2 separate regions of the Homo sapiens genome follow, and region 2 is reported to be linked to region 1. The links are microRNA targets in miRTarBase. Many come from high-throughput screens and were not tested one by one. Region 1 holds a microRNA gene; the other region holds the end of a gene's coding sequence.
Evidence for each region. The annotated mature microRNA hsa-miR-4656 reads UGGGCUGAGGGCAGGAGGCCUGU and lies in region 1 at 3,157-3,179, shown strand. An mRNA with a match to its seed (bases 2 to 7 or 8) in the 3' UTR can be bound and repressed. Matches are read on the target gene's strand: a 7mer-m8 pairs with bases 2 to 8, a 7mer-A1 pairs with bases 2 to 7 and ends in A, and an 8mer does both.

Region 1 (4,330 bases):
GGAACTGATCGCGCACTCTTCATACAGACGCTTATTAAAGGAGATTTACTTTTACTGCAGCTCTTCTTGCCCATCAACTGTCCAAAAACAAAAGACTAGGAAACAGACCCAGCAGCCTCCACCCGACCCAGCCACAGGGCCTCAAGCCTCCAATCAGAGCCGCTCCATGGCACCCCTCAGCTCAGCTCAGTGTTGCCTGGGAGCAAAAGGCTCGGAGACAAAGCCCAGAGGGTGAGCAGGGGGGCCAGCCCCGCGTGTCTGTGAGGGTGCCAAGCCCACCGTGGGCCTTGCCTCCTCTCCCAGGACTCCCGCGCCCTCCTGAGCTCCTATCAGCCTGGCCTCAGTAGCAAGCTGGCTGCCCAGGCTCTTAATCTGCACCGAAGTCCCTGGCCACTGTCCCTTCACCCTGGCATGAGGCCGGCCTCCCTCTCCACCAGCCGGCTGACCGTGCGCAGGGCCAGGGGCAGGGCCGTGTTGGCATCGCGGTGATAGCGGGGGCTGCACACCTCCGTGCTGGGTGTGAGCACAAACTGGGCCACGCTAGGCATCTTCAGCAGGGTCAGCAGCTCTGTGGCCCGGGTACGGATGGCTTCCGCGCCCTCCTCGCTGTGCGTGGAGCTGGTGGCTGGACTGTGAGCCAGGGTCCTCATCTTTGACAGCAATAAAGAGGCCCTGGGGAAAGAAGGTCCCTCCGTCAGCTGCAGATGCTCCCCTCCCAGGACAGGGGTCTGTGTGGAGGGGCCAGGCCTGAAGCGCCCAGCAGAGTGGCTTTAGCTCAGCAGGGCCCACCCAGGACCTGCGCTGCTGCGACCATTTCACAACACCTGGATGGGAAGACCTCAGAAGCCACCTCTCTTCCCCAGGAGCCAGAAGGCTTCGCTCCCTCCCTGACCAGGCACCTGGGGATCAGATCTTGGCTCCGGGAGGCCAGCTTCGTCAGCGTGGTCATCAGCACGGTGACCACCTGGGGGGGACACCTGGGCAGGGCAGCAGAGGGGCGGCACTGGGTGACCTCGAATAGCAGAGCCTCCAGGGCTTCGAAGAACTTGTTGATCTGCTCCACGGTGCACCTCCGATCGTAGGTCACCGACAGGTACTCGCCGATGGCCCACACCTAGGCCCGGGGACAGAGATTCAGCCCCCACCCAGGCCTCCTGGGTCAGGAGCGGCTGTGGGAGGCCAGCGCCCGCCTTACCACGCTGGTGACGAGGCTCGCCCTGCTGCAGAGACCATTCACGCTGCCCAGGAACTCCAGCAGGTCTCTTGCCAGCTCCACCACCAGGGAGGGTTTCAGCGTACACAGGGCCAGGAACTGAGAACTCAGCACACTGCCCAGAAAGCCGGGTCTACGCCTGCTCTGTGCAGACCTATGACCCCATCCCCATCCAGGCCAAGGGCCTGGAGAAACCCGGGAAGCGTCTGAGTGGTAGGTGTATGCTGCACCCTCCGATAGAGGAACACAGAAGACTGCCAGCCTCAGAGAAACTGTTCTCACTGGGGAGAAGGCTGGCACCAGCGCTGGCCTCAGGCCCAGGCTCAGAGTGGAACCAGGATGGGCCTGCATGCATCAGGCCTTTGGAGAGAAGGACCCCAGGGGACAAGACGGGGAAGAGGGACCTGAGCTAACCCTGAAGAGGACAGGCTCGGCAGAAAGAAGGACGGGAATGTTCTTGAGAAGCAGAGAGAAGTGCCTGGGGCTGGGTGTGGGGCTGTGGGTGGGGGTGGCAGGGTCTGAGGCTGCTGAGGGCCCAGCTAGGGGTGGTGCCGAAGCCACTGAAGGGGAGGGGGGAGGGGAGAGGGGGAGGAGTCCAGGAGGCACCCGCCCAGGGCTGTGGCAGGAGCGCAGGAGGGACCTACCTGTGCACACCGGCAGCGTACCCTGGGGCCGGGTAGAGCGAGTCGCTCCTGCCCAGGAGCAGCAGCGCCAGCTGGTTGATCAGGGACCCGTCAGCCACCTGGGGGTCAGGAGTGGGAAACAGGCTCAGCCCCACCCCCACTGCAGGCCCTAAGGTTGGGGGTGAAGCCATGGTGAGGGCTGGGGGGCAGGTGAGGGGCTGGAGACTCCTCGTCCACTGCCTTCCCCAACACCCAGGGACACAGAGACTCAGCTGGCAGCATCCGGGCACAGGGAGGGAAGCCCTGGGCTGGCCCAAGTGCCCCCGGCAGAGGTGTCGCTTCTGTTCCACGGCTCCTCTGCCAACTCCCGCTCTGCAAGGCCAGGCACACGTCTTGTTTGGCCAAGGGTGCGCCCAAGCAACGCCCAGCCCCCTGCCGGCCTCCCCACCTCCCAGGCTCTCCTGCACTGGCTTGTAGAGCTCCCCGAGGTGGGAAGCAGCAATGGGGGAGATGGGGGGCACCAGCCTGTGGGAGCCTTTATTTTGGCCTCAGATGGGGATGCTGAATTATCAGGGGCAGCAGGGGGACAAACTGCTCCGGCCCCAGCTGTGTGGCCAGAGCCCAGGCCACTCACTTGCCCTGTCCTGGGGACGGAAGACAGGGCCTGCTGGGGCAGTTGGATGGAGCCTGCTGGGATGGGAGACAGGACCTGCCGGGATGAAGGGGATGGGACGGGGATTGGGGGACGTGGCCTGCCGGGATGAAGGGGATGGGACGGGGACTGGGGAACGGGGCCTGCTGGAATAAAGGGGATGGGACAAGGGACGGGGCCTGCCGGGGCTGTGGCATGTGCCTCCCTGACCCTCACAGGGACCGTGGATGGTGGGTGTGGCGGGAGCAGCCTTCTGCAGAGCTCAAGAGGGCCCCCCAGTGCTGGCTCTGGCCTGCCCCTCAGTTGTGAGGCCTGTGGGAATGGGGGGCCCCAGGCAGCGAGCTCACCTGGGTCACTGCTGAGAAGAATGCCTGCAGCAGCGTGGGCACGGCCTGGGCACACTGGGCCACGCGGGCACAGCCGGCCATGGGCTGCAGCAGCTGGTGGAGTGGCGCCAACCTGAGGACACAGTGTGGCCGTGAGTGCTGCCCGCTCCCCGACCTGGTGACTGCAGGCCGGGGCCACGTCGCCACTGCTCCCTCTCGCACAGCTGAGCCCGCTCCCATCCTCACTCATCGCCTCTCGGGACCTCCTGCTCCCCTGGGTTTGGGGAGACCCCTGGCGTCAGCACACCCGGGACAGTAAAGCCATCGGGACAAAGGCTGGCGTGGGCTGAGGGCAGGAGGCCTGTGGCCGGTCCCAGGCCTCCTGCTTCCTGGGCTCAGGCTCGGTTTGTCCATCTGCAAAATGGAGCACCCACAGGGCCAACCTCCAAGCTTATGAGGGTTGATGTGGGCAGCAGAGAGAGCTGAGACCAGGCCCCGCCCCCGGCAGACCCGTGGTGCAGAAGCAGGGCCTCTATAATGGTGATGACGGGGACGCAGCCTTGTGTGGGACACAAAGCACCCTGGCCTCAGCCTAGGGCTGAGCAGTGAGCCCCACCCCAGTGGCTGTGGCCGGGCTCTCTGAGCCACTGGTGGCCCCCTGGCCCTAGGGCCCCGTACCTCTCAGTGGCGCCACTGGCCTTGGGGCGCAGCAGGTATTGGAAAAGACCCTGGAACTGCGGGTCCCGGAAGGCCTCCAGGCAGCTGGGGGCCCTGAGAGAGGTGTCCCAGAGTGGCCTCTCGGATGCAGCCGGTGCTGACCTGCGTGGACAGACGCCCAAGGCCAGGCTGGGATGCGGCCCCTGCACTCAAGGGCACCCCCGTCAGGGAGACACACGGCAGGTGTCCCTAATATCACAGCACCTCGGGTGCCAGGAAGGGCTTGGCATGGGAGGCTCCAGGCCTGGGCGTGAAGACGGGTGAGGCACTCCAGGGTGCAGGGGCTGCCCTTGGCAAGTGGCCAAGGGTGACAGACACACCCTGTCCTAGAGGTGGCTTTGCAGGGGAGGACTGGTCAGGTGTTGGGGGGGGAAGAAGGAGGGTCCCCGGTGTAGGGGTCAGGAGCAGCGAGGAGGGGGCCCAGTGTGTGGAACCAGCTGGCTGGGAGACGCAGCGCTGGCAGAGGGTGAGGGGCCCACCTGAGCTGCAGGTCCAGCACCGCCGTCAAGCAGGGCAGGTCCAGCAGCGCGTGCAGCATCTCCAGGGCTGTGCCAGCGTCCACCAGGGCCGGGAGGAGCGCCACAAACTCGGAGGTGAGGGGTGGGCTGTTCCAGGCCAGGAACTGTGGGCACAGCACAGCGGTTCGGACACGGCTCGGAGCTGTGGAGCAGGCGGCAGAGGGAGGAGCCAGCTAGGGCCCCACAGCTGTCCCAGACCTGCAGTCCCCAGGAGGGCTTCTACCTTTGCCTCCTCCCGCTTTTTATTTTTTTGAGACAGGGTCTTGCTCTGTCGCCCAGGC
Region 2 (4,379 bases), not on the chromosome of region 1:
TCACCTGCCCAGGCCTGGAAGCAGCCCCCTCTGTCCTGGGGCCGGCTCCTTTCCAGGCATGAAGCTCAAACAGGCGCTGTCAGTGGGTCCAAACCATCGCAGCCCCGTCAAAGGACCCCTGTGTGAGCCTCAAACGGGGCATTGATAGGGCCTCAGTGAGGGCTGCCCAGGCGATCGTGGGCTCGCTTGGCTTGGCTAGCCATGCGGACTTCCCCAAACCCAGCTATTTCCTGTCCCTCGGGTGGCCCCCTCCCAGCTGCCTGGCCACAGGGCACAATCCCACTACACAGCTCAGCCTGTTCTTCGGCTCCAGGCCAGAGGTGGGAGTCGGGGAAGGCGGGAAGGACGGGAGAGTCGCGCCGGGAAGTTCAGGGCCTCCTGGTCCTTGTGACACACGCAGCCATGGCCCTTCAATCTCCTTGTGATAGGATGCAAGGCTGGGCCAATGTCTCTCCTCCCGTGACCTCTGCTCCCAATCCACACTTGCCGGGGCTTCTCAGCGGGCCCTCTTCCCATGGGTCTTTGCAAGAAGCAACAACTGACACAGACTGGGCCCCAGCCCGTCTAAAAGCCTCCACTCGGAGTAGAAAAAAAAGGTGCTTGGTCTCATCTCTGACCACTGTGTGGCCTCAGGAAAGTCACTTGATGTCTCTGGGCCTCTGCCCTCAAGTGTGAACAGGAGCTCGCTTTCCATTTCTGTGAATTACACTGCACCAACTGCTTGGGGGTCTGATAAGGAGCAAATAACATCCATGAAGAAATCTGCCATTCCACAAAAAAACTGACACCACCAGAAGGTTGACAATGCCTCTCAAACTCATCCCCGTCCCTGCCGCCCCATAGGATGACTTCCCCAGCCTTTGTAGGGGTCCCTGCATTTGGGCTCTTCCTTCCTAAAACCCAAACCTTGTAACTCCTTGGCCCAAAATCCTTCAAAGACACCTGTCTCAGGATTAGTCCATGTTCCTCGGTGTGACATTCAAGGCTCTGAGGGCTCTTTTGGTATTGGTGACAGATCCCAATTCAAACAGCCCTGGTCTCTTTATTAACTTTACTTTCAGGTAAGTCCTCAACAGCTCAGCCACACCGGGGAGAAAAGATAAGAGATGGAGAAACAGAGAGACATTATTAAAGAGTTGTAGTCCTGGATCCTGCCATACCTGAAGCCAAAAATCCCTGGATTTTTTATTTGTATGAGAGCCAAGAAACATCGTGAACCACCTTCTGGTTTCTCATAATAAACTTGGCTCATAAGGCTTCTGTTACTTGCAACCATGTCCTTCCTGTAAATTCCCTTCTTGGCTGAACTTAGCCAGGGTGAGCTTGCACCTAAAGAGCCCCACTGTGTGCAAACACTCTTCCTGACCCAGCCCCACAGCGGGCCGACCTCTTCTCCCTCCCCTCCCCACTTGCAGCCACGCTGAGCAGCTCGCCCCAGCTCCTCTCCCCAATGCCATAGAGTCTTTGCGTGTCCTGCTACCTAGACCTAGAGCACCCTTCCCATTCTGCTTACTGCTGCCTTCTCATCCTTCAGACTCCACTTGGTGACAGCCTCCAAGAGGCTTTCTCTGGCCCTCAGGCCACGTCTGAGGTCCCCTAGGCTTTCCCTATCGTGGCAGCCCTTTTGCAGATCTGTCCCTCCTACCGCAGACTGGGGGGAACTGGAGGCGAGTCTCATCTGTTGAGGTCTTCCCCAGTGTCCAGAGCAGGACCCAGCCCCAGGGGAGTGGAGTGCACGCCTGATTAGGGAGACATCAGGGTGCATCATCTTGGGCTGTGGTTCATGATCAGACAGCATTGGGTCAGGACCACCCCTCGCTCAGCATGGCCCATGGGAGGAGTTTCTGGATGGAGCAACTAGGTATGTGTGAGTGTTTACATGGGTGTGTGGGGGTGGGCGTGTGTGGAGGGGTGTGGGGGGTGTGAGTGTGTGGGTATATGGGGGGTGTGTGGGTGTGTAGGCGGTGGGAGTGAGTGTGTGGAGGGGTGTGGGGAGGGTGTGAGTGTGTGGGTATGTGGGGGGAGTGTGGGTGTTTGGGTGTATTTGTGGGTGTGTGGGGGTGGGTGTGAGTGTGTGGAGGGGTGTGGGTGTAGGGGGTGTGGGTGAGTCCTGGGGTGATGGAGGTAGAAGGCTGGTCTCCACCCTCCCTACACTGTATTTCCAGAAACACATCAGCCAGACAGAAGCTTGTTGCTGCTTTATTGAAACTTCCTCCCTGTCGCACACAAAGCAATTACACAAGGGGGTATTGCCAGGGAGCTCTTGCAGAGCCTTCTCCCTCTGTACCCCCCGACAGTCCCCAGAGACCCTGCCTCCGTGGCCTCCACCTCTGGGTCAGCTCCCTGGAGGACCCCGACACACAGGGAAGCAGGCACAGGAGGGCTGTTGGGGCCAAACCTCCCCAGCTGCCACAACCGCCATGACCCCAGTGGCAGGGTCAGTGCCCACAAGGGGGTTGCCTGCTTTGACTGAACTAACCTGTGGGTTTAGTCCAACGAACAGATGTGCCTGATTTCAGGGCTGAATTTTTGCTTGACCACAAGCCTCGGGCAGAACAGATTCGCCTATGACTGAATCGACTGAATGGATGGCCAGCGACAGCCTGGCCTGGGAATGGACTGGCAGCTCATCACTAAAATGACTCCTTTCATGGAATCCACTGTTATGCAGCCACACTGACCACAGAGCAACTGAATAGGTGAGCATTGGATTGTTGATGACAACTCTTCAGCAGAACAATTGTGTGTTTGAAGGGACTGTTTTATGATGAAATAACTGTTATTTCCTGGAGCTAATTGTTGAATGACAGTTTGTCAACTGTTTAAATGAATTTCATTTGAATTAACAATTATACAGCCACTCAGAGGTCCTACATTCGCCAGAGTTGGCATCCAGTTGATGGGTTCATTTGAATTAAATGGTTTGGAGGCTAACGTGATTTTTTAAATTGAATTTCATCACTATTCTGTGTATTCTATTTATCACTATTCTAAATGACTCATGGTTGGCTAATTGATTATCATGTAAGCAAGCTATTTGAAGAAATTGATTACATATATTTATATATAGGGGGTAACTAATTAATGATTACTTGATTAAATTGCTATGTGAACTGACAACTATTTATAAATCAATGCAATAGACTGTTGTTTGACCAAATTATTTTACTGAACTGACAAGTGGGTTTTTGATTTGTCAGTTGCTTGGCTGAACTGATCAAGTCGATAGTTGCTTGACAAACTCACCAACTTTAGAATGGCCAATCGTCTAAACAAGTGTCAGAGCTGATTGAAATAAACCAAGCATTGTTGGGCTGAATTATGGAGAGACCCGAGGAGTGACTCAGCCTAAAGCGTTGACCCAGTTGTGAGCAGCTCACAGGCCCTGCAGGAGGAGCAGGCCAGCGAGGGAGACACAAGCAGATTGTCCTGCCAGGGAGGGGCGGGAGGGCCCACCCAGGCCACAGGGGCCACCAAAGCAAAAAAGCAGATTATGAGGCAGCTCCACCCCTCCCAGCACTGGGGCTGGGGCCTGGCGAGGGTCACACCTCTGAGTATGGGGGTGGTGCTGGGCCCCCCTCTGGGGTCTTCGATGGCAAAGACAGGGCTTCCTCGTAGGACGGCAGGACCACCTGGGAGAGACAGAGAGATGAGGGCTGAGTATGGTCAAGAATGACCTGCAATTCCAACCTGGGGTCATGGGACCCAAACCCCCACCTCTGGCAAAATGATGATGATAATGACTGGCAGGTCTTGGATATTTGCTATGTGCTAGACATTGCCTGCATGAGATAGGTGCAGTTCCCAGCCCTGTAGTGGACATATTTGCCTTTGCCTATTCAGCATCAAGTCCCCCTTATTTTGAAAACAGTGCACCATTTTCCTTGGGAAAACATTCTCAGTCCATATACCTTCAGAAGAACTGGTCCCATCCCTCAGATCCAGCGAGGTGGCTGGACTTGGCCACTCAAAGTAGAATTCCATCCCCCTGGCTATAGTCCTTGGTTTGGGGATAGGCACGTGGCCCAAGTTGGTCCAATCAGACATACTCCTGGGACCTTCTTTTTCTGTTGGGATTTCTGAGAGGGTGGGATATCTGCCTAGGGGTTTTGGCAGCCTTTTTGCCACCACAAGGGATGGGCTTCCGGAAAATGAAGCCAACATCAAGGAAAGTAGAGTCAAGAGTTGGAGAGGACGAGATCATATCCTGATGTCAGGACTCAGCCAGGCCCAAGCCAGACCTACATTTGGCTGCTAAGTTCTGTGAGCTAGTAAATTCCTGAAGTCAGATTGAGTTGGGTTTCTGCCACTTGCAACCAAAAGTGTCTTAGCTAATACAATCTCCACCTTACAGGTGAGGAAAGTAAGTTACCAGGAAT

Region 2: miRTarBase lists LAPTM5 as a target of hsa-miR-4656. Seed matches in the 3' UTR shown: 8mer at 3,311-3,318 and 7mer-m8 at 2,519-2,525.

What each region holds. Positions count from the first base shown.
Region 1 is chr7:4,787,457-4,791,786 of GRCh38, reverse strand. It overlaps MIR4656 (microRNA 4656), which reads left to right and starts at 3,148; the gene lies at 3,148-3,222. It overlaps AP5Z1 (adaptor related protein complex 5 subunit zeta 1), which reads right to left. Exons shown (of 17, transcript NM_014855.3): 11 at 4,011-4,153; 12 at 3,493-3,633; 13 at 2,836-2,947; 14 at 1,858-1,955; 15 at 1,196-1,328; 16 at 900-1,114; 17 at 1-672. The coding sequence ends at 402.
Region 2 is chr1:30,730,286-30,734,664 of GRCh38, forward strand. LAPTM5 (lysosomal protein transmembrane 5) reads right to left here. Exons shown (of 8, transcript NM_006762.3): 8 at 2,184-3,632. The coding sequence ends at 3,543. Among named protein-coding and RNA genes, the nearest start is that of MIR4420, 6.8 kb to the right of the region's middle. RefSeq lists enhancers at 1-57, 208-317, 1,987-2,492, 2,493-2,998, 3,039-3,540.